7 linked regions of the Homo sapiens genome follow. The protein of the gene in region 1 interacts with the protein of each later gene in a pairwise test. Each region holds a gene or a part of one and is shown in the gene's direction. Other genes may lie near its edges. The genes, in order: PACSIN1, GAS7, KAT7, EHD3, COBLL1, SOS1 and EHBP1.

Evidence for each region.
Region 2: the proteins of PACSIN1 (region 1) and GAS7 interact in a two-hybrid assay, tested with the Homo sapiens proteins (one large-scale study listed by BioGRID and IntAct).
Region 3: the proteins of PACSIN1 (region 1) and KAT7 interact in a two-hybrid assay, tested with the Homo sapiens proteins (one large-scale study listed by BioGRID and IntAct).
Region 4: the proteins of PACSIN1 (region 1) and EHD3 interact in a two-hybrid assay, tested with the Homo sapiens proteins (one large-scale study listed by IntAct).
Region 5: the proteins of PACSIN1 (region 1) and COBLL1 interact in binary tests that used the Homo sapiens proteins (3 or more experiments, as listed by UniProt).
Region 6: the proteins of PACSIN1 (region 1) and SOS1 interact in a two-hybrid assay, tested with the Homo sapiens proteins (one large-scale study listed by IntAct).
Region 7: the proteins of PACSIN1 (region 1) and EHBP1 interact in a two-hybrid assay, tested with the Homo sapiens proteins (2 studies listed by BioGRID and IntAct).

Annotation. Positions count from the first base shown.
Region 1 is NC_000006.12:34,532,076-34,535,723, forward strand, and holds the end of PACSIN1 (protein kinase C and casein kinase substrate in neurons protein 1), read left to right. Parts: intron 1-345; coding exon 346-455; 3' UTR 456-3,148; downstream 3,149-3,648. UniProt on the Homo sapiens protein: Plays a role in the reorganization of the microtubule cytoskeleton via its interaction with MAPT; this decreases microtubule stability and inhibits MAPT-induced microtubule polymerization.
Region 2 is NC_000017.11:9,918,550-9,922,967, reverse strand, and holds part of GAS7 (growth arrest-specific protein 7), read left to right. Parts: intron 1-3,262; coding exon 3,263-3,342; intron 3,343-4,418. UniProt on the Homo sapiens protein: May play a role in promoting maturation and morphological differentiation of cerebellar neurons.
Region 3 is NC_000017.11:49,816,181-49,819,680, forward strand, and holds part of KAT7 (histone acetyltransferase KAT7), read left to right. Parts: intron 1-1,639; coding exon 1,640-1,831; intron 1,832-3,500. UniProt on the Homo sapiens protein: Catalytic subunit of histone acetyltransferase HBO1 complexes, which specifically mediate acetylation of histone H3 at 'Lys-14' (H3K14ac), thereby regulating various processes, such as gene transcription, protein ubiquitination, immune regulation, stem cell pluripotent and self-renewal maintenance and embryonic development.
Region 4 is NC_000002.12:31,267,162-31,270,479, forward strand, and holds the end of EHD3 (EH domain-containing protein 3), read left to right. Parts: 3' UTR 1-2,290; downstream 2,291-3,318. UniProt on the Homo sapiens protein: ATP- and membrane-binding protein that controls membrane reorganization/tubulation upon ATP hydrolysis. In vitro causes tubulation of endocytic membranes. Binding to phosphatidic acid induces its membrane tubulation activity.
Region 5 is NC_000002.12:164,834,907-164,839,324, reverse strand, and holds part of COBLL1 (cordon-bleu protein-like 1), read left to right. Parts: intron 1-4,418.
Region 6 is NC_000002.12:39,114,076-39,118,493, reverse strand, and holds part of SOS1 (son of sevenless homolog 1), read left to right. Parts: intron 1-4,418.
Region 7 is NC_000002.12:62,703,786-62,708,995, forward strand, and holds the start of EHBP1 (EH domain-binding protein 1), read left to right. Parts: upstream 1-1,927; 5' UTR 1,928-2,267; intron 2,268-2,527; exon of another isoform or gene 2,528-2,969; intron 2,970-3,111; 5' UTR 3,112-3,406; coding exon 3,407-3,510; intron 3,511-5,210. UniProt on the Homo sapiens protein: May play a role in actin reorganization. Links clathrin-mediated endocytosis to the actin cytoskeleton. May act as Rab effector protein and play a role in vesicle trafficking.

The DNA of each region.
Region 1 (3,648 bases):
TGTGGGCGTGACCTGGGCCCAGGATGGGAGTGGGGGCAAGATTTAGATTGGTTGGTGCCAGGGGCGGAGTCAGAACCTGAGAATAGTGTGGATGCGAGGTCTGGTTTTGGGGACGGACCCGACACCCAGATTAGGTGAATGGCTGAGGTAGGCCAAGACCCCTATGCCAAGGGTGGCACGTGAATGTTGGCGTGGGACTGGGGCTGGTTTCCAGGGGCGGGGCCTAAGAATCTAAAACCCAGTGCAGTAATCAGGAGGTGGGTATTGGAGGGTTCCCCTAGCAGCCGGTGCGTTGAGGGAGGGGCAGCCTTCTCTCTGAGCCCCTCCCTGTGTTCTCTTTCCCAGGAGACGAACTCACCAAGCTGGGCGAGGAGGATGAGCAGGGCTGGTGCCGTGGGCGGCTGGACAGCGGGCAGCTGGGCCTCTACCCTGCCAACTACGTGGAGGCTATCTAGAGGCCCCCTCCCTCCATACTCCCGTCACTCCTCCCCACTGCCGCCCCTCCCCTCCCACTCTCGTCTCCTTCCCCTCGCCATAGAGTTCCAGACATATTTTCCGATCAAGCTTTTATTTTTTTAAAAGTCAAAACAGAACAAAACAAAGTATGCAGAGACAGAGCATTTGCAGGGCCACCTGGAGGCTGGGGTGCTGGGGCTTGGGGTGGCCCCAGGGTAGGTAACAGTCTTAGGACTTAGCCCAACATCACAACATCTGCTCTTCGGGTTCCACCAAAGAGTCTCCTGAGCCCTGAGGGATGGATGTCTCCTGACCCTTCCACCCCGCCTCACTCCCTCCGTCCCACTCCACTCCAGGCTGCCGGCACCTGCCCCATTCCCTGGCCTGGTTTCCTAACCTCTTCTTCCTCCCCTGCCCTGCTTCCCTTCCTCCACCACCCTGCTCTCAAAGGCCTCCTCTCCAGACCCCTGGAAGGGAGGCTTCCCCATCTTTAGTTTTCCACTCTGCCCCGGGGAGCACCCTTCTACTCCTAGCCACGTCCCTTGGGACCGGTGGGACTGGAGGAGGAACGGTCACCCTCCTCCCCCATGGAGGTTTCCAGGGGTCCCCCAGACATGAAAGAGGGGTGAGCTGGAGGAAGTCATGGTGTCACTGGGGTACAGGAGGGTGAATGAAGGGCATGCAGGCCCTCAGCCCGGGCTGTGCCAGCCCTCCCAGCCCCAGGCCCATCTGAGGGACCAAGACGCTGTTACGCAGGCCCTTCTTTCCAGCTATCAGCACTTTCAGCATCGGCTCTTCAGCAGATCCAAACCCCCTCAGCAACTTGCAGAGGACCTGTCCCCTCTCAAAAGTCCCCTGGCCTAGGGTGGGGACCCCCAAACCTACGGCAAAGCCAGCAACAGTAGCAGCCTGCTCCCATTTGCTGGGGAGGAGATCATCTTGTTCCCCTGGCCCCCCACTCTCCCTCCATGTCCATCCAAAAACCATAAAATCACTGGGTTCCACATCAGCCTCCATGAGGCCAAGCCTTGTACCTGCAAGGCTCTTGGCCTAACCATTCCTCTGTCCTCTTCTCTGGCCTGCCTGGGGAGCCCGTGAAGGCCGCACGGGTGCCTCCAGCCTGAGACATCAGGGGAGAGCCTGCAGCTGAGTTCAGCAGAAAGGAGGAATCCTGGCCCTCAGGAAGAAGATAGTCACATGTTTTTCTTCCTTGTCCCCACGGCCCCCAGAACAACATTCTCCCTGCTGGCAGCCCTTCCATGTCTCCAAACCTGGGTCAGAGTGAAAGGACCTTTGGGGGTGGGTGGGAGCAAAGGGCCCACCTGCTGGTTGGTGAAAGCAGTGGTGCCGGAGTGCTAGGTACCGCACGAGAGGGTGCGGGGGCTTGGGAAGCAGACCAGGGTTGGACAAAACCCCATGAGGGCGGGGAGCTGGAAGAAAAGTCTCTTGGGGACCTCTGGGGCAAGGAGCTGAGAAGTCCTGCAGCACCAGGTGAGACTTGCTTACAGTGGATGCCACTTCTAGGCCTCTGGACCGCAGATGCCCTCCTCCCTCCTGCACACCTGGCCTCCTGGGCCTCCAGGTAAAGAGAGAGAGCCAGCCCAGCCCTGTTTCCCCTCAGTCCTCCTTTGCTCCTGCTGCTTCTCCCAACAGCCCACTGTTAGGAGGTAGTAGACCCCAGCCTCAAGGCTCTGACCTTCTTCATGTGGGCACAGAGGGTCCTGACACTCTGGCAGGGCCTGAGCTGGGGCAGGCCTCCCTCAGGGCCAGGGGCGATGGCACCCCGGGGACAGGCAGACCTCCTTCCTGCCGTCAGCACCCCCTTCCTTATCACTGTCTGGTCTCCGAGCTTCGGCTGCAGCCTGAGGTGTGTCCTGGGCTCCTCAGAGCCTGAAGCAAGCTTTTGGAAGCCTGCAGTCCTCCCAGCTCCAGTGCAGAAGCCTCTCTCTCCAGCCTTTCCCCAGGCAGGAGTTGGGGTTGGGGGCCTCTGTCCCTCATCGCTTACCTTGGAAAGGTGGGAAGCTGGCAATCTGCACCTTGGGGCCTGGGCTCCCCCTCTCTGTGCCAGCGGCTTCCCAGCACCTGGGAGGGGCTGCAGCCCCAGCTGGACTCCAGCCTGTCCCTCTTAGCACTCTAGCTGCCCACTCCAGGGCAGGGACTCGAAACCCCCTCCGTCCTGAGCAGCCACCTCCAGGGCCCTGTTTGGGACCACTCTCTCAGTCCCCAGGTCCTCAGGGCCCCAGAGCGGGAGGGTCTCCTACCTGGAAGTCCCCCTGAGCTCCAGGGCCCAGCCCTACCTGCCAGTGCTGGTGTCAGGGCACTCAACACCGAGTGTGGGGGCCACGCCCCTTGCCATGCCCACGGCCTCCTCCTGTAGCTCCTGCCTGCACCCACGATGCTGCACGGGCCCGCCCTGGTGGGGCTCGGCGAGTAATGTGTTTTGTCCCCAGTTAACCACCATTCTGCGGCCTGGTTCTGCAAGGAACCAGGGCTGCCCCACCGCCCGCCGTCTGCCGCCCTAGGCTTCCTGACTCCATTAGTTCCGACACTTGTGAAACTCCGAGAAGTGCTGTGGTCTCAGCAATGCACCTGTTTTGTACATGATTGTGTAATTTAAAGGTATATAAATACAAATATATATATATATCAGTTGTGATTGTATGACTGTGGATAAAATCCAGAACTGTGTCAACCTGGCTGCGCATTGTCATCTTGAGTCTGTGCACCTTCAGTCCTGGGGGTTTCTGAGCCCTCTGAGAGCTATTTGTGGTTGGGATGCAGGGGGGTAGGGGTGGTGCCCGAGCAGGACTGGGTGCTGTCCTGGCCCACCATCCACAGACTAGGCCACTGAGAGCCGGTCCCTTCGCCCTGCGGGGGCCTGGGTCTTGTCTGGACTGGGGAGGGTGATACTGGAGGCTCCTGGAGCTCTGGCCCATTCAGGTTCCGGGTGCCTGGTGACAGGCCCTGACCAGGAGAGCTGGGGCATTCAGGGTTCCACATTCATGGATCAAGAGTGAATGAGGTCCTCAAATAGGTTTTGCTTTTTAAAGCAGAATTCTAAAAGTGACTGCTGAGGCCCACGGTTCCTGGCTGTCCACAGTGCCAAGCTCCCTGTGCGGTGATGTTGGGCTGTGCCATGCCTTCCTGCGTCTCGCCTGGCTCTGAATGCATTTCTGTGTGGGACCCGTGGGA
Region 2 (4,418 bases), on another chromosome or scaffold:
CACTGCACTCCAGCCTGGGCAAGAGAGTGAGACTCTGTCTCAAAAAACAAAACAAACAAACAAACAAAAAAAGACAGTGAAATATGTAACCCACCAGACATTTATTTTTCCTTACACTGGTGGTCTAACCATATTCCACAGGTTCTTATTTGTGGTGGTTTTATTTCTGCTATTTTCATTATGTTTTGCTATTTGGGTTTTCATTTGATCTTCGAACCAAGAATTGTTTCAAAGAAAATCTTTATATGTTTACAAGCAAGGGCTTTGTTGTTGTTTTCTAATCTTGCTATTTTTTTTTACATAGTTTTATTGCATTGTCATCAGATAATACGGTCTCTCATTCCTGTAGTTTGGAATTATTTTGTGACGAAAGTGACAGTCCTTAGACCTAACTCTGAAAAATACCGCCTCTTCTGAGCACTCGCTGTGGCCAGCCTCCATGCTTTAGAGCATTGTCTCTTTTGATCAGCACAGTCCCCCTGCAGGGAGGTATTTTTATACCCTTTACAAATGAGAAGACTGATGGCAGAGAAAATGAGAACCTTCCATGAGGTCCACAGTGGTGGAGCGGCGAAGCCACAATTCAGTCTCCTCTCATTCCAGAGACTCTGCTTGTCGCCATTTTGCTGGACAGCCTGTTGCTCAGGAAATGCCACCTGTTCTTTCCTTCTGTTCCTTTCCTCCCTCTTCCTCATCTTTTCCAAGGCTACTAGAAGGAAAGACATCAGATCCTCAGGGATCATCATCATCATCATCATCATCATCATCATCTTCATCACCACCATAGCCCATATTAATATTTGGCTCTCTACGCCCATCTCTATTCTAAGTGCTTTACATATTTTGACATATTTATTCCTCATAACAACTTGGTAAAGGTACAATCGTTATCTCCATTTTACAGATGAAGACACGGAGGCAAGCGCAGGATAACCGACTTGTCTACGATTACATAGCTAATAAGTAGTTGAGCTGGGATGACAACAAAGGCTTTTTTTTTTTTTTTTTTGAGATGGAGTCTTGCTCTGTCGCCCAGGCTGGAGTGCAGTGGTGCGATCTCTGCTCACTGCAAGCTCCGCCTCCCTGGTTCATGCCATTCTCCTGCCTCAGCCTCCCGAGTAGCTGGGACTACAGGCGCCTGCCACCACGCCTGGCTAATTTTTTATATTTTTAGTAGAGACGGGGTTTCACCGTGTTAGCCAGGATGGTCTCGATGTCCTGACCTCGTGATCCACCCGCCTCGGCCTCCCAAAGTGCTGGGATTACAGGCGTGAGGCACCGCGCCTGGCCAACAAAGGCATTCTTGTCCCACAATCCATGGTCTTAACCAATACTGTTCTAAAAAGTTCCAATTTCAAGCTCTTGGGCTGCCATAGAGAGAAGGTACAGCCCCCTTCACCTACTCTGTTTCCCAATGCTGTGGAAGTTCCTGAAGCAATTTCTCAAAATCAGCATTGACACACAGGGCTCAGGGAGTTTCACAGTGTACAGAGCAGCACGCCGCCCTCCTCCTCGGCCAGGCAGGAGCTCTTGCTAGAAATGCATTTGCATTTCGGAGGCTGAGGCGGGCGGATCACAAGGTCAGGAGTTCGAGACTAGCCTGGCCGATATGGTGAAACCCCATCTCTACTAAAAATACAAAAACTAGCCAGGGGTGGTGGCGCATGCCTGTGGTACCAGCTACTCGGGAGGCTGAGGCAGAAGAATCACTTGAACCCGGGAGGTGGAGGTTGCAGTGAGCCGAGATTGCGCCACTGCACTCCAGCCTGGGTGACAGAGCCAGACTCCGTCTCAAAAAAAAAAAAAAAAAGAAAAAAATGCATTTTACGGTGCAGCATCCACTTTCTTCTCTCCGGTTCAGTGCCTCTTGGGATCAAGGGTCCAGTCATTGGCCTTGGACCAAGAACAAAATGAATAAATGCCTTGGTGTGGGCTCTGTTATTCAAGGCACACTCGCGTCTGGTGTGTGGCATAGCTAGGGGTATGGTTCGCAGCTAGGCCTGGGGCCTGGAGACATAACCTTCCCTGTTCTCTTTGACTTTCCTATCAGAGTACCTATGAGCCACAATGATGATACTATAGGAGTCACTTTGACTCTACTCGAATTACTAAATTCTACTCTAGCATTCTGCTTCTAGAATTACTAGAGAAAATTACTTCACTTTGGGGTTCACTCATGAGCTTTTTCCATCGTGAGCAAACACCATGATGCCTTCCTCTTGCTGGAGCCCTGTGAGGATGAGGAAGCTACGCTGAGACAAAGCCGTGCATGAGAGCTGTGCTGCTCTGCCTGCCACGTGCACACACATTACCAGAGCGTCTCATAAACATGCAGTCTCTGATTCAGTAGGTCTCGGATCTGTCCTGGGTTTCTGAATTTCTAGCCGACCCCAGGGCATACAAGTGCCACTGGCCCACAGACTGTGATTTGTGTAGCAAGGTTCCAAGGTGCTGGTACGCTTAGTAATGTTTGCAATTACTTCGCAGTGTGTTTTCTTTCTAATTACAAAATGTTCTAAACATACATATGATAACAAAGTAATAGAGTAGTCCTAAAGATTGAATAGTTATGTTTGCCTCGGATCTTTCTGTGATGACATAAAATGCAATAGAAGGAGCTGATTCCTGCCCACTCACCCTTTCTCTGTTTCCCAAGGTAGCCACTCTCCTGAAGCTGGGGTGTGCTCCTCCAGTGCATGTTTTAGACTGTGACTACAGATGCGTTCTTTTGTGTTTCAGAAGGACATCTTGCAGTGTGTTCATGCACACACACACACACACACACTTACATGATCTGCAAATTTATCTTCCTTAATTATTCTTAGCACCAAATTGTGTGTGACATGTTTTAACCAATCTGGACTCCCCAGTGTAAAATAAAACTGCCATCTTTAGAGAGGGAAGCATTTCTTGGGCTCATGATAGGATTGGGGGTCCTAGGAATACCCTAGACACACACACACACACACACACACACACACACACACACACACACACAAAATGAGAACCACCATCCTGAATCCTTGGTATCTGGGGTCAGGCTTCAGGGGGACACCTGAGCTGGGTTCTCATGGGGCTGGGTTGCCCCCTTCCTTCCCTGGCTCTGCTTTCTTCTTCTTCCTACTGCCATCCCTTTTCCAGCTTTCCAGCGGCCACCATGACCCCAGGGGGAGGAGAAGGCTTGGCTGTGGGGCTCAGGGTGGGGCACAGAGTCATGGTGAGGATAGGATGCTTCATGATGGTGACTGTGGTCTTTTTCCAGGAGACGACCTCATGCGCTGTGTGGATCTCTACAACCAGGCCCAGTCCAAATGGTTTGAAGAGATGGTGACCACCACATTGGTAAGCGGGCAGGGATGTGTGGACATGGCAGTACAGAGGCTGACACAGAGCAGCCCCTGGTGGTTGTTGGTGGGCGCGGGGATGATGGGGTGGAGTGACCCTGGAGATGGTCATCAAATCTACTTCAGTGTTGGGGTCGAAACCTCAATGTGAGCCAGCTTATGTGGATTCAGATCTCTGCTCCAGCGCTTCCTAGCTGTGTGGATGTGGGCAGGGTTGGGTTGGATATGGCTACATCCTTCTTGGGCTGTCCCCTGAGAGGTCAGGGTCAACTGAGGACTCTCCTCAACTAAGTGGACAAGGGCCTCTTTAGGAAAAATAGCCAAGCTATAGGAAGAGAGGACCGCCCCACACATGCACACACACGAGTTGCAGGTCCTTGGTAGGAGATCCTTGCAAAGTGGATGGATGGGTGAGGATGGAGCTAGGCAGTGGGGTGGGGGAGGCCTCTCACCAAGGGTGAACAACAGGCGGCAGGGCCGATGATGCTCTTGAGTATTTCTTGTAAAGGGGCAGCATCTCCTTATCAGTCAGCACCTGCCTGAGTGGACAGTGAAGTGTGGCTGGTACTTGGGCCAGATGGGACAGGAGGCATCATGCCAGGTGCTCATCGGATCAGCCCACTGCCTAAAGCCACCCCTGTCCATCCAGCACAGGACTAACCAGCTGCCTTCCCCAGGTGTCAGCCCACCAGAGCAGATTAGAGGCCTCCACCAGGGACAGTGACCTAGTTTTCCTCCTGGTTAATCTCCTAATTAAGCCCCCTGCTTTACCCCCCTTTCTGATTAATCACCTGGGCAGTGACCTAGTTGTATGCAGAGTAACAGCCGGATCCCCTAGATTCCAAAGACACAAAACCATCTAGAAACCAGAGGACAAACCCTTTCCACGCTCCCCTTTGACAAAAGCTGTGCCACGTGCAGCCCAGTCTGCCTCCCTGGCCCGGTCTCTATTGCGGCCACAGCACTAGGCATAGGCAGAGGAAGGGAGGCTGCTCAGCAGAGGCCCAGGGACAAGGTCCCAGGAATGTGTGGCATGGAGCTCCCACATGTGCCCCCTTGTTATACCCCATCAGG
Region 3 (3,500 bases), on another chromosome or scaffold:
AAACCATAGGCGCCCCTTTGTCTCAGCTGGGCAATTTGCAATTCTGAGAACCTGTAGCCTAGGAGAGACTCATCTCTGTTGTTTTCTTAATCCCAACAGGAACTCCCCTTTTGCTAGGTTTCCTCTGCACTAAGAATGAAAATAACAGTGAAGAGGAATAATGGAAAAGGCTGTTGTCAGATGTTTTAGAATTAATCTTTGACACAGCCAAGTTTGATACATTGGTTTTCCATTCTGATATTTATTTAGAGCTAGTTTATACTGAGTTGCTGTCCTAGGCAGAATTTTTAACAACTTTGCTTGAAGAAAATTCTGGTGATTGAGTTTACCTCTGATATAACAGATTAAATGTGTTCAGGGAAGCTCAGTTTTAAAGTGAATCTCGTCTTCACCCCCTTCCCCCTTGTATTAAAAAAAAATTGTATCAAATACTAGACTTGTTGAAAACTTGGCAGAGGCAGGGTTTGCTGGCTACCCTTGGCTGGGATGGGCTGTTACTGCTGCTGGTTTTCTCTATCCTATTCTGGCATGGAGCATTTCCTGGGCTAGCCTTTTACAACTTTACACCTGGTTATGCTTACAAATTATACTTTTGTAGCCAACTCAGAGCCACTGAATGGAGATGGATATCCGAATTTTTTTTTTTTCTGAGACAGGGTTTTGCCCTGTTGCCCAAACTGGAGTGCAGTGGTGCCATCATGGCTCACTGCAGCCTCGACCTTCAGTGCTCAAGCGATTCTCCCACGTCAGCCTCCTGAGTAGCTGGGACTACAGGCATGCCACTACACCCATCCCAGAAATATTTTCTGCCTTCTAGAGTTTAGATTCTAGAATTATCATGCACATTTCAAAAATATTTTTTAAAGGGCCTGTTTTTTTTTCTAAGTGACCATTGTGGATATATTTCACGGAGATTCATATAGCTTTATAAAAGCTTCTGCAGATAAGTAAGGCAGATTCTAAATCAAGTTTTTTGTTTAGTTTTAGAATACTTTATAAGGGTGGGGAGTTTGTATCTGTGATGATTTTCTTTATAATTCAGTTTGGTCTAGGCTGATAAAAATGAAGTTTCCAAGGTATCATTCTGGTGAGGCCCAGAATGTGGGAGGTAGCAGAGAAACCTCTCTTTTGAGACCTGTGCTCTGGGCAGTATGGGTAGTAAGTTTTCTGTACACCTGTGTGATTTTTCATGTAGCTCTCTTTAGTGTAAATTCTCATGGATAGAAGCCAAATCTGTCTGATTTTTTTCATAGCCTAGCGTGGTGGCATGCACACACACTTTTAAAAACAAAGATAATATTTATTTTTTTAAAAAGGAGTTTCGCTCTGTCTCCCAGGCTGGAGTGCAGTAGTGCGATCTCGGTTCACCGCAGCCTCTGCCTCTTGGGCGATTCTTCTGCCTTAGCCTCCCAAGTAGCTGGGATTACAATTGTTTGCCACCACACCTTGCTAATTGTTGTATTTTTAGTAGAGATGGGGTTTTGCCATTTCGGCCAGGCTGGTCTCGAACTCCTGGCCTTAAGTGACCTGCCTGCCTCAGCCTCCCAAAGTGTTGGGATTACAGGAGCCACTGTGCCCTGTCTAAAAGCAAAGATAATAAATTCTGATCCTCCTTTGACTTTTGATTTCTTGGCAATAGGAGAAGTTAAGGCTGCAAGGCCAAATCACAGAGGGAAGCAACATGATTAAAACAATTGCTTTTGGCCGCTATGAGCTTGATACCTGGTATCATTCTCCATATCCTGAAGAATATGCACGGCTGGGACGTCTCTATATGTGTGAATTCTGTTTAAAATATATGAAGAGCCAAACGATACTCCGCCGGCACATGGTGAGTTGTCTTGGGTTCCTCTGCCTTGACCATGATGGCAATAAGCTGTAGGATCTCTAGATTTTGCCATAGCGATGGCATCTGTTCAGGCACCTTCTCAGTGGTCCTCAGCAGTGGGATGAAGGCATAGGAAATGACAGGCCACAGCTTAAGGCGGGGTATAGAGCCTGAGGTATGGCTTGTGCTGGGTGCCACCCAAAGCAGCTGAGGGCCCTTACCCACATCCTGTCATGTACATCTTCTTGTCTTTTGTTCTTGCTGCCTACTGCTCTTCATTTCCTCCTTGGAATATGAATTACCTCTGCCCACAGGTTTTGTGTGTCCCAAACTAGATGAAAATACAGACTTCATTAGGCACAGCAGAGACAGCATGGCTCACCTTCATATCCCTAGCAACTAGTGTGGACAACTGATGCCCAAGAAGTATATGTTGAATGGGTACTTATTAATATTTAATAGTGATCAGCCTGTGACAGATTATGAAAGTAGCAGAGTGGGTCCTTTGGTGCCTTCCCCTCTTTTTCCTAATAAAACAGGTATAAGGAGTTGAATCTGTTATTGTTGACAAATAGGTTTACTAGATTTTTTGCAGCTTCAAAAAAAAAGCCATTTTTCCCCCGCTCTGTTACAGAATAAGCTTTGTCTTAAGGGGAATTTCTGCCATGGAGCAAGGGTGCGGAACAGGGGAAGGAGTAGAGATTAGCCTTTCAGGCAGAGAAGACTTTTTCTTGTTTTTTTTTTTTTTGAGAGGGAGTCTTGCTCTGTTGACCAGGCTGGAGTGCAGTGGCGCGATCTTGGCTCACTGCAACCTCCGCCTCCCAGATTCAAACGATTCTCCTGCCTCAGCCTCCTGAGTACCTGGGACTACAGTCGCACACCACCACACCTGGCTGATTTTTGTATTTTTAGTAGAGACAGGGTTTCACCATATTGACCAGGATGGTCTTGATCTCCTGACCTCATGATCCACCCACCTCAGCTTCCCAAAGTGCTGGGATTACAGGCATGAGCCACTGTGCCCAGCCCTTGTTCTCATAATCACAATATAATTTGGCTCTAAGGCCTCTGGGGTGTCTCTTTTTCCTTCCCCTTCCTTTTTTATTTCCCAGGATTTCCATATGTTGAGCATCTATGACCCAGGTTTCCTGTGATTTCTGTCATTATACTCTTCTCCCCAGTTTGGTTGGTGATAACTGCTTTTTTATGTTCCCAGTTCAGGAGCATGTGGTCTGTAAGTTCAGGGCCCAGAACTGTTGCTTTGACTCAGGTTCTCCAGACCCTGGCACACTTGACTGCATAGGGCTAGAGTCATGGAGGGGAGGTGATTGGCGGCGATTGGTAGAAATATCAGTGCACAGGAAATAATGGGGTCAGAAGGTGGGGCACTGATACAGATGGCAGGCCGTGGAGATAAAGTAAAATGGTTTTACTGTGTGAAAGCGGGTATTTTTATTGATGTGAACTGCTTACCATTTATGCCTTTTTTCCTTTTCGTTTCTGGTTGTTGAGTGACACAAACCAATGAAATAGCCAAAAGGGCAAGAAATAGTAATAGAAGGAGAAAACAAAGAGTCTGAATAAATCTGAGAATCAAATAAACATTCTGAATATTTGAAAATCTTCCATATTATATGATATAAAAATCAGATTTCAGGAAATACCTAATTTA
Region 4 (3,318 bases), on another chromosome or scaffold:
CATTCAAGAGCTAGGAGATCTGAGGGCAGGCGGGCAGCTGCAGGGAGGAGAGGTGAGAAAGGAAGCGTCTTCTAGAGACATTGGCCCAGGAGCTCTGTTCTTTCCTAATCTAAGCCTCTGTCTTCTTCGGCAAACCTTGCTTTGAACTCTGCCAGTATTTCATTTTAAAGAATCCCAGAGCGGGAGAGAGAAGAGAAAAAAATTGATAAGAGTGAGGAAATTGTCCTGTAGTCTATTGAAAACCAGTCAAGGTGGTTTTAGTTCATAGATTTTGTTAGATGTTCTTTCCACCTGGCCTATGATGTTTAGATGTTCATACTTGACTCACATTTACCCAGCCCCTCCTGCGTACCAGGAGCTGTGTTAGGCACTTTATATACATTATTCTATGTGGCCCTCACTGATGCCCCAGGGAAGTATGCATTAGCCTTCCCATTTTGCAGTTGAGGAGGCTGAGTAGCCTCAGAAGGGTTTAGGCGACCTTCTGAAACTCACAGAAGTCACGTGATGGAGAGAGGATTCAAAGCCAGGGCCTCAGACCCTCACACACTTGTCTGTGCTATGATGTATGCAGGATCCCAGCATTGATACCCAATGACAAACTATGGAGAACAAGCAAAGTATGCAGGCCCCCTGCAGCCTCCCAGGACAGGCTGGCAAGGGAGGAGGGCCGGCCAGCATTTGGTGGCCCATCAGTCTGGCCATCTGTCACGTCACAGAAGCAAACCGTGCCTTCTGGCTCTGCGCCCCATATTCCCAGCATCATAGACATCCAACAGCACCAGCAGGAGAGTGGGCTAGCCTGCTGGATGCTGTTCGTGCCTGTCCCTGCTCTGCCTCCCACCCAGTTGCCTGAATCATCCCAGCTCAGATGCAGCCACTGTCTCTTGTCAAGTGGGACCTCATACTATTCTCAGAAGGCTAACTTGAGAGGTTTGGGGCCTTGTTCCCCAGAGGGTCCCCAGGGACTCTGCAGTGTCCTTGGCAAATCCCCACTGTACTCAATGCCCTACATTCTCTTCTGTGGTCTCTCCCCTGGCTTGCTTCATGGCCACTGAACCAATCACTTTGTATGCTATGCTCCTACTGTGATGGAAAACAAAATGAGTATAACTTATTTTATATCCATATTCAGACTATATAGAGAATATTCTATGCATCTATGACGTGCTTACTACTGCAGTGCATTTGTCATTAGTCTTCATGTTAATACAGTACATTTATTCTTTGGTACCTGCCTGGCCACAGAGCATCATTCAATGGAGGCTGAGGGAGAAGGGCTGGGTTCTTACTTGGAGTTCCTGGTGAAATCTTTGGCTGGAAAGGGCTCACTGGGGCCACCCAATGGCCAGCATCCACAACCAGCTTCCCAGTGGGCTGGAGTTTGTCTAGGCTCAGTGACCAACCCAGGCACAGCTGGTGGAGCCACCGCTCCCTGCTCCTCTGGAGTGAAGATGTTCCCTAAGCCCCTGGGCTTCCTTCTGCAAATACACATTTCTCTTTCACATGAAATGAAGGGCAGACAAAGGCCAGGCAAAGAGGTCTCACCTGCTCTGGAGAAAACCCTTGAGTGCCGAGTGCAGGTTAGGGACCATTTCTCAACTCCACACCTTTCTTCAAGCTGAAGGAGAAATGGGAAGGAAATAGCAGAGGTAGGTGAAGTTCCTGTCTTTTTATTTTATAGGAAAGGGAGATGTCTGTTATCCCCTTTCTTCACTGCCACTGGACACACATGCCACTTTCCTGCCCTTCTACATATGCTGCCTCTCTTCCCTCTCTCCATCTTGAAGTCTCCACCCAGGAGAGACCTGTGAGGTGTGGGAATTCCATGTTTGCACAGCTCCCATCTCCCTGGAAAGAGGAACTGATGTTTGAGGGGACAGATGTGGGTCACTTTCCCTGGCAGTGCCCTCTAGCCTTGCTGCCTTGGCTTTCTGACCCCTTCCAGGCTTCAGGGGCCTGGGAGATCTCATGCCTCAGCCCAGGAAACATTTAATAGGGAAAGCAGAGACATGTCATGTCAGCCCCACAGACAAGAATTTCTAGAGCACTTGTCCTGTTGTTCCTTGCCCCGACATTACTCAGTCTGGGCCATGGAATCCATCCAATAAACACAGCAACACCCTATGCTACTGACCAAGCAAAGCTTGCCCCTGGTACCAAAGAGCTAAATCATGACCAAAGTGTGACATGAATGTAACTGAAATGCGGGTTAGTTGCTCAATGTATGCAAAGTCCCACGGACAAGAGTAAAGTCTGATACCAATAAAGTGAATGTATTCCAAAGCTAGCTTGGAGGAGGGGCACACAACGTCCTGCCTTTCAATGTGCCGCTTCCCCTTTGGAGCAGAAAGCAGGCACTTTTATAAGGTAAGGGAGCAAGTGAGCAAGGGTCCGCCTGATAGCATGGTGCCTTATCTACTGGACAGTTGAGTCGGGCCTTCCTGGGCAAAAATAAATTTTAAAAGTGGCCAAGTAGGCATACTTTAGATATAACCTCCTAGTGAATGAAAGTCCTGAGGCAGCCCCTGGAGGGTGGGAGTTCCAAGGCAACCCCTGGAGGTGAAAGCTCAAGGAGGGCATGTTTTGGTCTGCAAATTGGCAGTCAATTCTGGAGGACTATTTTGGAGCAGAGAGATGAACTTGCCCTGTAGGGAATGTCTAGTGAAGGGGAGATGAAAGCTTATATTTGCATTTCCCTTTTTTTGAGACAGTCTCACTCTGTCGCACAGGCTGGAGTGTAGTGGCATGATCCCAGCTCACTGCCACCTCTGCCTCCCAGGTTCAAGCCATTCTTGTGCCTCAGCCTCCCAAGTAGCTGGGACTACAGGTACTCCACCACCACGCCTGGCTAATTTTTTTTTTTTTTTTTTACTTTTAGTGAAAACAGGGTTTCACCATGTTGGCCAGGCTGGTCTTGAATTTCTGACCTCAAGTGATCTGTCCACCTCAGCCTCCCAAAGTGCTGGGATTACAGGCATAGGCGAGAGCCACTGCGCCAGGCCTATATTTGCATTTCTAAAGGGCTACCTAGGAAGTTGGGAATCCAGGAAATGGAAAAAAGAAGAGAGGAAGAAAAAAACAGCTCTTAGAAAACTGGGGTGCTCATTTACATGAATATTTCCAGATGACACCACTGAACCATAGCAGGGCATGGGCCTTGGTTTGCAGAGTGATGAGTGGTTGCCCTGAGTCATCCCCACTTCCATTTGGTTCCAAAACCTGTATTTATGAGTTAACTCATCAGAATCTGCTGAATGACCTGAAGAGAATAGGCTTGTTTATTCTTCCTATGTGATGCTGTCTGGAGTCTATACA
Region 5 (4,418 bases), on another chromosome or scaffold:
CAGTGCGCCCAGCCACTTTTGAGAATTTAAAGGTTAAACTGATAAGTTCTTTGCTTAAAAAGAAAGTACAAAAGAGCCTTATCTAATTTGTCAAGCATTTGTAAAGGACTTTTGCCGTCCCCTTTTCAAATTTAAGTAGGGAAAATCTGTCAACACCTTATCTAAAATAACACAGTAGTTCTATCATTTTGCCTTACATTATTCTACTCAGAGAAGTTATCATTACCTGAAAAATATCAACATGAAAAAATTACCTCTCTACTTCATTTGTCTTATTTCACTTGTCTAACTTGTCCTTTGGCATATTCCGAATGCCTGTCATATAAGATTTGTTGAATATTTAATATTCAGTATTGCTTCTCTTCTCTCTCAAAAACCCAAATTATAAAAGGTTTAAACTGGGGGAAAAATATCTAGATAAGGGTATTTGGGAAGTGGCAGGCAGAAATCTTAATATGTTATAATTGTTAGGTTTTGGAGATAAATTTCTTGCTATAAAACTGACTAATTATATCATAACTCATTACTTTAATAGACAATGAAGCCTAGTTTAGTCTTTATCCTTGGATATTACTGTTGGAAAGAATTCCTCTGTAATTTTCCAAGTTTTACATTGTTGTAACATGTCATTTTAACATAGCACCAAGTTTTGTTCTCCACATTTTATAAATGAGAATCTGAAGCTCAGAAACACTGAGTGTGTTGAAGTCCCAGCAAATTAGTAGTAAAACCAGAAGAAAAACTCCAAGTGCCTAGTTCATTTTGTTAATTGCTTTTTATCTTTTCTTGACCATGGTATGATATAACATACCATGACGTTATACATTTTAACGGATAACTTATATTTAACCATTAACTCTGTAATATTTTAATACATTTCAGGAAAAATGTAGTTGATATCCTTATCTTCACTTTTATTAATTCTATGATAAATTAGCCCATTCAGGGAATGAGTATTTTAGGAAAATAAAATTGTTTTATGGCCTCTCAGCTGCTGCTTTTTCTTTGAAACATTCTAAATAATAATTGTAACATCAAAAGGGATAGTTTGAAGTTTGTTTGGTGCCTTCACACATTTAACTCGCATTTAGCATTCTACGACATTGTGAATTATATGGGTTGGGTGTCATTTTCTTTTCAGTGGAAGCAATGGTGTGCAGAAATAGTGGCTGCCGTAGGGTCTGTGCTGGTGAAGTCCCTGCCTTAAAAGGGTCTGATCCTGTGGTCATCTTGAATGTCTTTCATTTTGGCCTCTACTGTACTGCTTTAATCCCTTACCATTCTAGATTAGATCCCTTTCTTTTGAGACAGGCTGGAGTCTTGCTATGTTGCCCAGGCTGACCTTGACCTCTTGGGCCCAAGTGATCCTCCCACCTCAGCCTCCTGCATGGCCGAGACTACAGTCACAAGCCACTGTGCCTGGCTTTAGATCACTTTCTTAGTAACATGCAGAAGTATCCACTTTATATTTGTTGTTCTGTATCTTATGGGCTTCTTTTTGGAATTCGTTATGAGGTTAAGAGTTTAGATATCAAAAGACATTGAGTCACAACAGTTTCGGTTTTCCTTCGAGAAAAAAGATTGCATGCAACTTTATATATATTCAAATGTAATATGTACATTCATATATAATTACATATTTTATGTATACTATACATATACATACATATATACTCCTATCTAATTCATGTATATATGTTTTCATATGTATGTGAAAGTTGACTGGTTTAACTTACATAGTGATCTAGATGAAAAATGATAAATCATTTTTATATTTGTTTCTATGAAGTGGAAATCCTAGGTTGGTTTGCGTTTTTTTTTTGCAGAGAGCAAAAATGTTGGAGACACTGGTTGGAAAATTGAAATGCTGCATTGGAGAAGAGAGCGATAGTCAAAAGTAATTTCCTTCTCTAACGTGGATATCCAATTAGTAAATTTATTTAAGTTTTCTATATTAGTACTTAGTAAAGTGACATTAATCACTTAGAAAAAGCAACATGATTGCTGACATCAACTTGGGTGCTTATCTTTGGAACTAGTGCTTATGTTCTTTACTTGCCCAGATATGCTTTAAAAAAAAAAATCCTTCGAAATTTAAATGTCAAAAGCTTAATTGACCTTGCTCTGAGGGATCTTAATATTTTGATTCTGAAGCACATTTTCAGGAATGTACAGAGGGGACAAAAGCTCTCTTTATCATTTTGCAGCTTTGGAGCTATGGAGTTAATTGAAGGCATACGAAAAATTAAAGAATGATTTAACAGCTGCTTTCTTAAGCTTTTGTTGAGGAGTGTTATTGGTTCTAAAGTTTCACTGATTGTATGAACTGAGTTCTTGAATACTTGAAGTTGAGTGACTTCTCTGAGGTTTCAACATGGGAGTCATCTGGGATACTTTCACACGAATTCTTGGGCTCTCATGCCCCCACCCATTCTGATTTTAATTCTCTTGGTCTGGGACCAGGGGATGGCTAGTTTTAAAATGCTGCTCAGGTGATTGTAGTGTGTGACCAGATTTGAGAATCATTGATTAAGTAGATATCAATAGCTGACATGGAGCTGATGCAAAAAAGAGAATAGAGGCTGTTACTAATCATTTATAGGGAACTCAAGATTGTAACTTTAGCATTATTTTGCCTTTTGAAAGATTCCATGTAGCTGCTTTGCAATATTATTTTTAAAGCTTTTGCTACTTCTTTTTGAATAAGTATATTAACTTCATTTTACAATGAATGAAACTGAGGATCAGAGAGCTTAATTAACACATTGAAGGTCATACAACTCTAAGGAATGGAAGAGTATTAGAAACAAGCTCTGATTCCAAACCTATGCTTTTCATAGTGCTATGTTTGCTACCATGGATTATACTGAATGGCTAAAAATGATTTTTATTTAAAGTGGCCTTATAAAAGCATTATCTTGATTCTTTTTAAAATTATGTTTACATTTTATATTTAAAAACTATAAATTTCAATGCATATAAAATGTCTAGCATTTAAAAGGAGATTAATTATTTGGCTTATGTCTTCAAAGTAATGTGTAACATATTCCTGTGTATGGTATGATGTAATTTAACTCATAGTAAACTGGCAGTTTTTTTCATCATATGACAAAGTCTATACTTATTTTTTGATATTAGGCAGCTATTAAATGTATAACAATATTTCAAAAGTAGGATTTTTGATTACTGAATAACAAAAATGAAATTATTTATTAAAAATGCTATACTTGCCCTTCAAAATCAATTACCTCTACATGAGTTAGAGGATATTGAATAACAATATTATGACCTTATATTTGTACTGAAACGCCAGATGTGTTAATATAATAATAAATGCCAAACTTCATGTTATTAAGACAACTACTTTTAATTAATCAGTCAAAAACTCCTGAACTCTTACTTTATATAAAACATATTTTTCTAGGTACTGGGAAATAGGCTTCTAATCTTAAGAACTTCACTACAGAAATTATATGTATCTGTAGGAATAAAATGAACATGATGTTAGTGTATAAATGGTACTTTGTTACTGGCTTAAAACATTATGTCTATGCTTAGAATTTAAAATGCAACAGCCTAACTTATGGGTCAGCAAACTATGTCCTGAAAGTCAAAACAGCCCTCTACCTGCTTTTTTATCCCCCTTTTTCTCCATTGTGGTAAAATATGCATAGCATAAAATTTACCATCTTAGCCATTTTTAACTGCATGGTTCAGTGGTGTTAAGCACATTCATATTGTTGAACCATCACCACCTTCCATCATTATAACTCCTTCCATCTGGCAAAACTGAAACCCTATACCCATTAAACAATAACTTCCCCATTCCACTTTCTCCAGCCCCTGAAAACCACCATTCTACTTTGTCTCTGATTTTGACTACTCTAGGTACCTCTTACAAGTGAGATCAAAGTCTGTCTTTTTTTGACTGGCTTATTTCACATAATGTCATACATGTTGTAGTATATATCAGTACTTTATTGCTTTTTATAGCTGAATAATATTCCATTGTATGTATAGATCACATTTTGCTTATCCATCCATCAGTGGATACTTGGGTTGTGTTCACATTTTAGTTATTGTGAATAGTGCTGTTGCTATGAACATGGGTGTACAAATACCTCTTGAAGACCCTACTTTCAGTTCTTTTGGGTGTGTTGTTAGAAATAGAAAGTCTGGATCATATAGCAGTTTTATTTATTAATTTTTTTGAGGAACTGCCATACTGTTTTTTGTTTGTTCTTTTTTTGTTTTGTTTTTTTTTACAGTGGTTGTACCATTTTACATTCACCAAAAGTACATGAGGTTCCAATTCTCTTCACCAACGTTTATGTTATAGAGCCCCCCTTCCCTGTAGCAGCTATCCTAATGGGTATGTGGTAGTATCTCATTGCATGTTTGATTCCTGTTTCCCTAAT
Region 6 (4,418 bases), on another chromosome or scaffold:
ATCTAGCTGATATGTAAGGTTCTTCCAATTCTTATTTAAATAGCCACTAACAATGATTCTAAACAAGATTGAAAATACAGTATGTTTCATATCTGGATATGCTGTTGGTAGCTCAAAACCTACGTTTTTACTTGCCTGCTGGACATTTCATGTGGATATCTCCATATCTTGATTTCTTCCTTTGATTTGTTATTGAATTATTCGTAGATACATCCGACTTGTGTTCTCTTACTCTTACCTGAGGCTCTTTGGATATGCTAGTCCCTTCATCCTTCTTTGCCTGGTCCAACACTACTCATCCTTCTAGACTCACTCAACCTGAACTGTCAAATCATCAGGGCTGAGTTGGATATTACTCCTTTGTTTTCTTTTTGCACCCTGTCCTAGCTCTGTGAATTTTAAGTTCCTATTTACTTGCCTATAACTAGATTGGATGCTCCTTGAGAACAGGGATGATATCTTACCCACATTTTATTCCCCATACTTATAGTGCTTGACATCTGGTAGGCACTCAATTTGAATAAATAGGTGAGGGGATATACAAACTAAAACTATCACTTCTCTCCTCCACCTGTCATTTCAGTTTTTCTTCTCGATTAATGGCTTTATTGTTACATTTGACTGGTTTAAAATGTTGGGGTCATCTCTGGCTTCTTTGTATTACTGTGCACACTCAGGTAGAGCCTGTATGTTCATTTCCCTTTGACATGTTCTTCTAGTCTATTCCTCCTCCGACTTCTCTAATTGAGTCTCCTTTGTCAGACTACTGTGATAACTTCTTAATGGGGTTCACTGGCCCCCACCTCACCTTCTGTTTTTCAAATCTCACCAGTTATAGGACACTTCTGAACATGTCACACTCAGAATTGTTGATGTCTTTTGAGTTCAACCTATGCTAAAGTGCACTTTTTAGCATAGAATTAACAGCAATTGATATTTGGCTTCATCCTGCTTTTCTGACTGGATTGTCTACCATAACCTTTTATCTCCTTTTTGCTTTAGCCAGTCCGGACTGCTACTTTTCCTGAATATGGCTGGAATGTCCCACTGTATCTGTTTCACCGCATCTATGAGTCTAAGTCCTATCTTATCTATTGCACAAATATATCATGCCTACTATAGACCAGGTATTGCCCTTGACACTCAGGCTAAAAAGGTAAATGACAGGGCCGGGCGCAGTGGCTCACGCCTGTAATCCAGCACTTTGGGAGAGCAAGGTGGGCGGATCACGAGGTCAGGAATTCAAGACCAGCCTGGCCAACGTGGTGAAACCCCATCTCTACTAAAAAATACAAAAATTAGCCTGGCGTGGTGGTGGGCACCTGTAATCCCAGCTACTCGGGAGGCTGAGGCAGGAGAATAGCTTGAAACCGGAAGACGGAGGTTGCAGTGGGGCGAGATTGCACCACTGCACTCCAACCTGGGCAACAAGAGCAAAACTCTGTCTCAAAAAAAAAAAAAAAAAGTAAATGACATAATCAGAAAAGACTAAATTAGAACATGATGGGAAGTGGCAGGGCATGTCTGGAGAGACAACTGGTTTATGAACAGTTTTTATATATGTTAAGCTAAGGAATTTAAATTTTTTCTTGGGTAATTAGAAGCCATTGATAAAGTTTCTTTTGTTTGTTTTTGTTTTGTTTGTTTGTTTTGAGACAGAGTCTTAACAGGCTGGAGTGCAGTGGTGCGATCTTGGCTCACTGCAGCCTCCACCTCCTGGGCTTAAGCTATCCTCCCACCTCAGCCTCCTGAGACTGTAGGCACACTGCCACATCCAGATAATTTTTGTATTTTTTGTAGAGATGGGGTTTCACCAGGCTGGTCTTGAACTCCTGGGCTCAAGCCATCTGCCTGCCTCAGCTTCCCAAAGTGCTAGGATTACAGGGTGAGCCACTGTGCCCAGCCAATAAGTTTTAAGTAGGGGAGTAACAGCACATTTTAATTTTAGAAAATTCACTTTGGCCATAGAATGGAAAATGGTTTGGAGAAGAATGAGACGTAAAGTGAGGAGAAAAGTTAGAAGCCTAGTTTAATAGTCCAGTCAAGAGATAATACACATTTGAACTAAGGGTGCATTTGAACAAGGATGGAAATATGGATGTGGATTTTATTTGAAAGAAGTTTACAAGGCAAAATTGACAGGATCTAGTAACTCACTGAGTGATTGGGGGAATGGTAATGGAACAGGAATAGTCTTGTTTCTGACTTGATTGTCTTTAGTCAGGATAGAGAATGTAGGAGAAGCTCTTAGGATGGAGAGAGGAGTGGCATAATAAGATGATTTTTGGAAATGTTGACTTAAAAGTTTGGGTTATTCAAGTGAACTTCTCCAACTGGCTATTGGTTGTTGGTATCTGATTAAGCAGATTTGGAACTTCTAGATGTGTAAGTAAAGCCATAAATATAGATGAAGCCTCTACAAAGACTTATACATGAATGTTCATGGCAGCTGTTTTCAGTCAAAAACTGGAAACAATCCAATGTTCGTCAGCAGGTGAATGAATAAGCAAATTGTGATACAAACAGTGGAATACTATTGGTTGTTGGTATCTGATGAAGCAGATTTGGAACTTCTAGATGTGTAAGTAAAGCCATAAATATAGATGAAGCTTATACAAAGACTTATACATGAATGTTCATGGCATCTCTTTTCAGTCAAAAACTGGAAAAAATCCAATGTTCGTCAACAGGTGAATGAATAAGCAAATTGTGATACAAACAGTGGAATACTACTCAGCAATAAAAAGGAACAAACTGGCTGGGTGTGGTGGCTCACACCTGTAATCCCAGCACTTTAGGAGGCCAAAGTGGGAGGATTACTTGAGCCCAAGAGTTCCAGGCCAGCCTAGGCAACATAATGAAACCCTGTCTCTACAAAAAACTTAAAAAATTAGCCAAAACATTTAAAAAAATTAGCCAGGTGTGGTGGCATGAGCCTGTAGTCCCAGCTGCTTGGGAGGCTGAGGTGGGAGCATTGCTTGAGTCTGAGAGGTCAAGGCTGCAGTGAGGTGTGATTGTGCTATTGCACTCCAGCCTGGGCAAAAAAATGAGACCCTGTCTCAAAAAAAAAAAAAAAAAAAAAAAAAAGAGAGAGAACAAATTTGATACAAATGACAACATGGCTGAATCTCAAAATAATTATACTCAATGAAAGAAGGGAAACCAAAAAAGAGTATATACTATATGAGTCTACTTATAGAACATTCTAGAAGGTGCAAACTAGTGCAGATCAGTGGTTGTTTAGGGAGAGGCTTTTTATGTTTACTTATCTTGATTGTGCTGATGGTTTCAGGGGTGTGTACATATCCTGAAATTTTTCAGATTGTATATTTTAAATATGTGCAGTTTATTGTATGTCAGTTGTACCTCAATGAAGGTATTTTAAAAAGTAGATGAGACCACACGCTGAAAATGATTTTAGTAAGACTGAAAAAGGGCTGGCATAAGAAGTGGGGGAAGGGAGTGGGAAATAGTGTATAGGGAGATAGCAGAGGAAAAGGAATGATGTAAGGAGACCGAGAAGCAAGGAGTCAGGCAGAAGGAATGAAACCCTAGTGTCTGAGAAGTTGAGAGAGGAATGCTTCAAGAAAAGAGTTGGCTGTGTGCGATGGCTCACACCTGTAATCCTAGCATGTTGGGAGGCCAAGGCAGGTGGATCACCTGTGGTCAGGAGTTTGAGACCAGCCTGGCCAACATAGTGAAACCCCTGTCTTTACTAAAAATACAAAAATTAGCCTGACGTGGTGGTGCACGCCTGTAATCCCAGCTACTCGGGAGGCTGAGACACAAGAATCCTGGGAGTTGGAGGCTTCAGTGAGCTGAGATCACACCACTGTACTCCAGCCTGGGTGACAGAGCTAGACTCTGTTTCAAAAAGAAACAAAAACAAATCAGCCGGGCCAGGTGGCTCACGCCTGTAATCCCAGCACTTTGAGAGGCTGAGGCGGGGGATCACCTGAGGTCAGGAGTTCGATACCAGCCTAACCAACATGGAGAAACCCCATCTCTACTAAAAATACAAAATTAGCTGGGCGTGGTGGCGCATGCCTGTAATCCTAGCTACTCAGGAGGCTGAGGCAGGAGAATTGCTTGAACCCAGGAGGCAGAGGTTATGGTGAGCTGAGATTGTGCCATTGCACTCCAGCTTGGGCAACAAGAGTGAAACTCCATCTCAGAAAAAAAGAAAAAAAAAAAAGAAAAGAACAAAAAGAAAAACAAAAAACAAAAAAAATTAGCCAGGCTTGGTGGCACGCACCTGTGGTCCTGGCTACTCAGGAGGCTGAGGTGGGAGGATTGCCTGAGCCTGGGATGTTGAGGCTGAGGTGAGCCATGATCGTGCCATTGCACTGCCGTCTGGGTGACAGGGTAAAACCCTGTCTCAGAAAAAGAAAGAAACAAAAATAGAAAGAAAAGAAAGA
Region 7 (5,210 bases), on another chromosome or scaffold:
TTACTTTTAAGGGAATTTCTTTACAATAAAGTCAGTCTCTCTATTTTTTCTCTCTTCCCCCTCTCCCTTTGGAGTAAGGGAAGCATGTTAAAAGAAACCAGAATGACCACATAAGAAAGTTTGAGAACTTCCAGAGAACAGTAATAAATAGGGTGCAAAAACCTTCTGATCATCATGTGGATTGTTTCTGAAGGGTAACTTGGATGAAAATAATTTATGACCATTTCTACAAATAAGCCATTAAAAAACTCCACACACTTAAAGCCTACTAAAGATGCAGAATATATTATTATATGAGATCATAATGGCTGTAGGTTGTAGTGACTTCGTAAACCACTCAGGAAGGACATCAGAGAACTCTTAATAGAAAATAAGAATCAATATGATTATTACGATTATCTTAACATTTTAGAATTGACTAGCAAAATAAGCGATAACTATGCTGTTTTCTGTAAAATGCACACTGTGCTCTTGTATTATTAGATCATTTTCTTTATTGAAAGTGGAAATTGAATTAGATACTGGATTCAAGCCTTATATCTGTCTCCCCATCTCTCTTGATTCTTCAACATGTCTCTCCACTTTGTCTTGGCCCCCAATGTCTACAGATGGACTCAATTCTCACCCATCACTGCTCTCTCTTCCTGTCCCTGAAAGAATCCTCCCTAGACCCTAACACCTTTCAAGCTACTTTGTCCATGCACCCTGCTTTCCAACCTTCGTAAGATTGAATGATCCTTGTTTCCAGAACCCATCCCGCTTGCTTTCTTTTTATGTTAGCTTGCCTCTCTTTTTTTTCCAAACTGTCTGCCCATAGCTTGCTGATGCGCCTACTTCTCTGATTATTCCTTCTCGGTCTCTTTCCCATTTTACTCTGTTTATTCCTTAGATGCTAGGATTCCCCTGAAGTTTCATTCTTTGTCCTCTTTCTCCACACCAGGGGTCTGTGAACCACCTAAAACTGAAAACAATTTTTTGTGTTTTGAGACAGAACACTTTTTCCCCCTTGAGAAAGTATCTGTAGCTTTCATATTCTCAAAAGGGCCCTTGGCTCTTTTAACAAGATTGAGTGTCCCTGCCCTCACTCTGCCTCCTCCTTTTTGCCTTTGACCACCCTTTTTATATGCTAGCTGTTCCCAAATCCATCTACAGTTCTCACTAGGGGCAAAAGAGTCCGACAGCGAAGAGGAAACCAAGATTCAAAGAAATGTTGAAGACTCCGAACAATAAGAAATTGTACTGTACACATTTTGTGTCTAGCTCAGCTGATTCAATCCCACTGAAGACCAGTTGACTCTATGTTGGGCGGGGAGCGGCCGGGGTGTCGGGGGGTGCCTGACAGGGTCATTACTTCAGGTTGTCAGGTAAGATCCCAGGAGGAACTGGTGAAATAAAGGCTATGCGCAAAAACCCTAGTTGCCAGTGGCGGAGGAGAGGGCGCGCCCAGGTCCTGGCGGAGATGAGAACAGGAGAGAAACCCACAGGCAGCTGCACTGCCCACAGCTGCAGCGAAGCCAATCTCTAGGTCTGCAATCACCCTTAGGGGCCAGAAACCCAGCCCCGCACCAGCGGCGCCTTTGACGGACAGCCACCTTCTGCAATCACCTTGCAGTTCACTATAAACACTCCCTATTCCTCCCGCCTATCGCTTCCCTCTCCAAGCCAATCAGAAGAACGGGCGGGATCGTCCTTAGTCGGTTCCTTCTTTTTTTTTTTAAAAAAAAGGTAGCCTGTGCGTCGCATTCCGGCTTCGGGGAAAAACCACCTCCCGAGCAAGGGCAAGGCGGAGCCCCTGTGATGGGCAGGCAGTTCTACCAATGAGGTGCCCCAGCCGCTGTAAGACCCGGCCGCCGAGGTGGGCGGGGCACGCGCGGGGCCTGGCCAATGGCGGCGGGGCGGTGGAGGTTGAGCTGCCGTGGGTAGGGTTAGTGTGAGAGGTGCGGCGGGGGAGGTAATGATGATGGTGGCGGAGGAGAAAGGCGGGGGAGGGGGTGCTGGGCGCTGAGCGGTGGCTCTGGCAGGGCTTGGTAGGGTGGGGGACGGTCGCGGGGCGATCTGTCAGGGAGGGGGTGGGCGTGAGGGGCGCCGTCCGCCTGAGGGGCTGCAGATCCCGGCTACCGCGAGCGCCGTGGCTGGCTTGGCTGTTCCATGTGGCTCCGGCGGGGATGGAGGACTCGGTGGCGGCGGCGGCTGCTGCTGCGGCGGCGACGGAGGAGCGGCTATGAGAAGGGAACGGGGCCAGACTCAGCCCGACAGCGGGATTAGAGGTGTGAGGAGGGGGCGGGAGTGGACGAGCGGCGGGGCCGGGGCTCGGGGTCCGGGCTGGGGTCTTCTGGTATCGCCTGGGTGACAGGGACCGCGGACGAGCCACCGCCTGTCTCCGCTGGGGGGCAGGGGTCTGGGCTCCGTGCGTGAGGAGACTGGGCTCCGGCGGACTGTTTCCCTGAGGATGGGGGAGGGAGGCACCGCACCCTGCACAGTCCACTTGCCCCGCTGGTCATTGCTTCACCCCCAGGCAGGAGTTTCCATTTCCCTCCGGTTGGCAGCGAAGGAGCCCAAGTGGCCTGGAGCCGGGACATTGCCCTCTCTCTGCCTGGAGATTTCCCTCCACTCCTCGTTCCCCATCCATTTCCTCCCTCCGACTGAAAAATAGCATTCCTCCTGGCTCCCTAATTTGTTCCAAGCACATATTGTCGGACTTGAGGCTATTAATTATCGACTGAAAAACAAAGTTTATTAAAAAATACTCCACTTCTCCCTCTTTCTGGCGGTGGACATTAAACAGCATCCCTAGACTTTCCCGCTCTGCTCGCCCTTCAGTGATGCTAACAGGGGGAGGTAGGGCCCCGAGTTACCGTCTCTCTGGATTGTTGTTGGTGCTGACTACCTGATGTGTCGCTCCACGTCTTCGGTGTGAATTGTAATTTCTTCCTTGGTGTCTTGCATCCTTGATGTTACTGGCTTTTGAGGTCAGTGTTTTGTTTCATTGTTTAAAAGACATGCAGAGAACTGGGATGGTCTTTTGCAGCGTTATTTAACATGGGTGGTTAGTCATTTCTCATGATTCTCTCCTCATATTCTTTCTCTTTTTGTCTTTGTTTTGCTTTTCAGCCCTCCAGAATACCCATCATATAGCCCCTGAGGTGGCATGGTGATGTCTCCATGAGGGAACCCCTTCCCACTCATCCTGTCACGTATATCATAGTGTTCTTGACTGGGCCATTCATCTAAGATGGGATTTACCCTGTGAAACAGGGAGAAGACTTATGGACCCCAAGCATCATTTCGAGTTGTAGTTGAGTTTTTAAAAGACATACATGCAAAGTTCCTTTGCTTTGGACCCTCTGCATTATTAAAGCTGCTGTATTGCTAACCCAGAACTGCTCCAGTGTCTTGACTGATCATCATGGCTTCAGTTTGGAAGAGACTGCAGCGTGTGGGAAAACATGCATCCAAGTTCCAGTTTGTGGCCTCCTACCAGGAGCTCATGGTTGAGTGTACGAAGAAATGGTAAGATGTACCTGGAGGTAGATTTTGCTGTGCTGTGGCCTAAGCATACTGTGGCCTAAACTCTGGGTCTTCTGATAGTATATTTACCTTTCTATAGTGCACTAGTGTGTAGAAGCTGGGTGGGGCGCAGATAACTCTAACAAGTACTGTGCTGTGCACTGTTGCTGCTAGTACCATCCCTGTGGATTTTAATTACTGCGCTTCAGTATGGCTCAGAGGACTGTAACTGTGAGAGCACACTAAATACAATAGATTTGGTTTTGAGGTTATTCATCATTAGTGTTAAAATAACTTTGATTTTTGTAATTTTAAGGAGACAAAGAATGGCTACTGAAATATTGTGAGCATTAATCCGTATATTTTAATATAACAGGCATATGATTTAATAGAGTTTTAATATAGAAGTCTATATTCTTGTGGGGTGATGGTAATCTATTTTATTTTTGTTTTTTCATTTTTCCTTGCTTAGGATAAAGAATTTTTCATTATTTGATTAATGGAATGCCATCCACAAAACCTTAGAAATTCTTTTGTTAAATGCTTACTCAGGCAACTGTATTTTATTTTAATTGCCTAATGGGATACATTTCTTGGCCAGATTTAAGGAAGCAATTAGTAGTGCTGGTCTGTGATTGGCTTTTTTCCACTTGAGAAGAGTAAATATAGGGCTTTCTTTCCATTGCCCTGAATGATAAACAACAAAAATTTTTTATTTAGTGAGAGAAAAAAGTTAATTTTAAGCAAATGGTCGTTTGGGTCTTGATTTACTGCAGTGATTAAGCAGTAATGGACTTATTGCAAAATAAGTCCATTTCTTTGTCCAGAAGGACTGTAATTCAGGTCTGTAATAATTTTTCTTTTTAACATCCATTTTATTAGATTAAAAAAATAGCTTGCTTTATTCTAGAACTCTTATATTTGAATATTTATTTGGAACTAGTTTCTGAATGCTTTTCTCTTCAACTTATTAGGAATATTATTTTAAAATCAGTTTGAGAAATGCATGCACTCATTACCTACTTTATACCAGGTACTGTGGATTTAGAGTAGAATACAACATAATCCCTGTCCTCAAGGAGTGTGCAGTCCAGTATAAGGAGAGTCACATGAATAAATTCACCGTGAGAGATGCAATAATATAAATATGTATGACATAAGGATTTTAATCTGTCTCGATACAGTTGAGTATCTTTGAGGACGGGTTATTTAACTTCTCCGTGATTCAAGTTTCCATATCCATAAAGGTCATAATGGTGCCACTTCATGGGGAGGGTAATTGTGAAGATTAAATGAGTTAATACATTTAAAATGCTTGGAACAGTGTCAGGGACATAGTGCCTAATAGATGCCATTATTATGTACAGAGGTCGCAGAGGGAAAAACAATTCTTTAAGGGTAGAGGATGAGTTGTTGGGATGGCTTCCTGGGATCTGAGCTGGGTTTTGAAAGATTCATAGTTGTTGTCCAGGAAGCCAAGGGAGAAGACGTAAAAGACATTCTAGACTGAAGCAACAACCTATGCAGAAACATGGGAGGCTTACCTAGCATGGGATGTGCTGGAAATTCAAGTAGTATAGTTTGATATTAATGGGGTTTAAAGTGTAGGATTGGGGGGCATGCAGTGAGATATGAGGTTTGAGAGTCAGGCAGGACTGAAAGCATGTTAAGTTATGTGCTGTTAATAAATGATTTGGGGATTA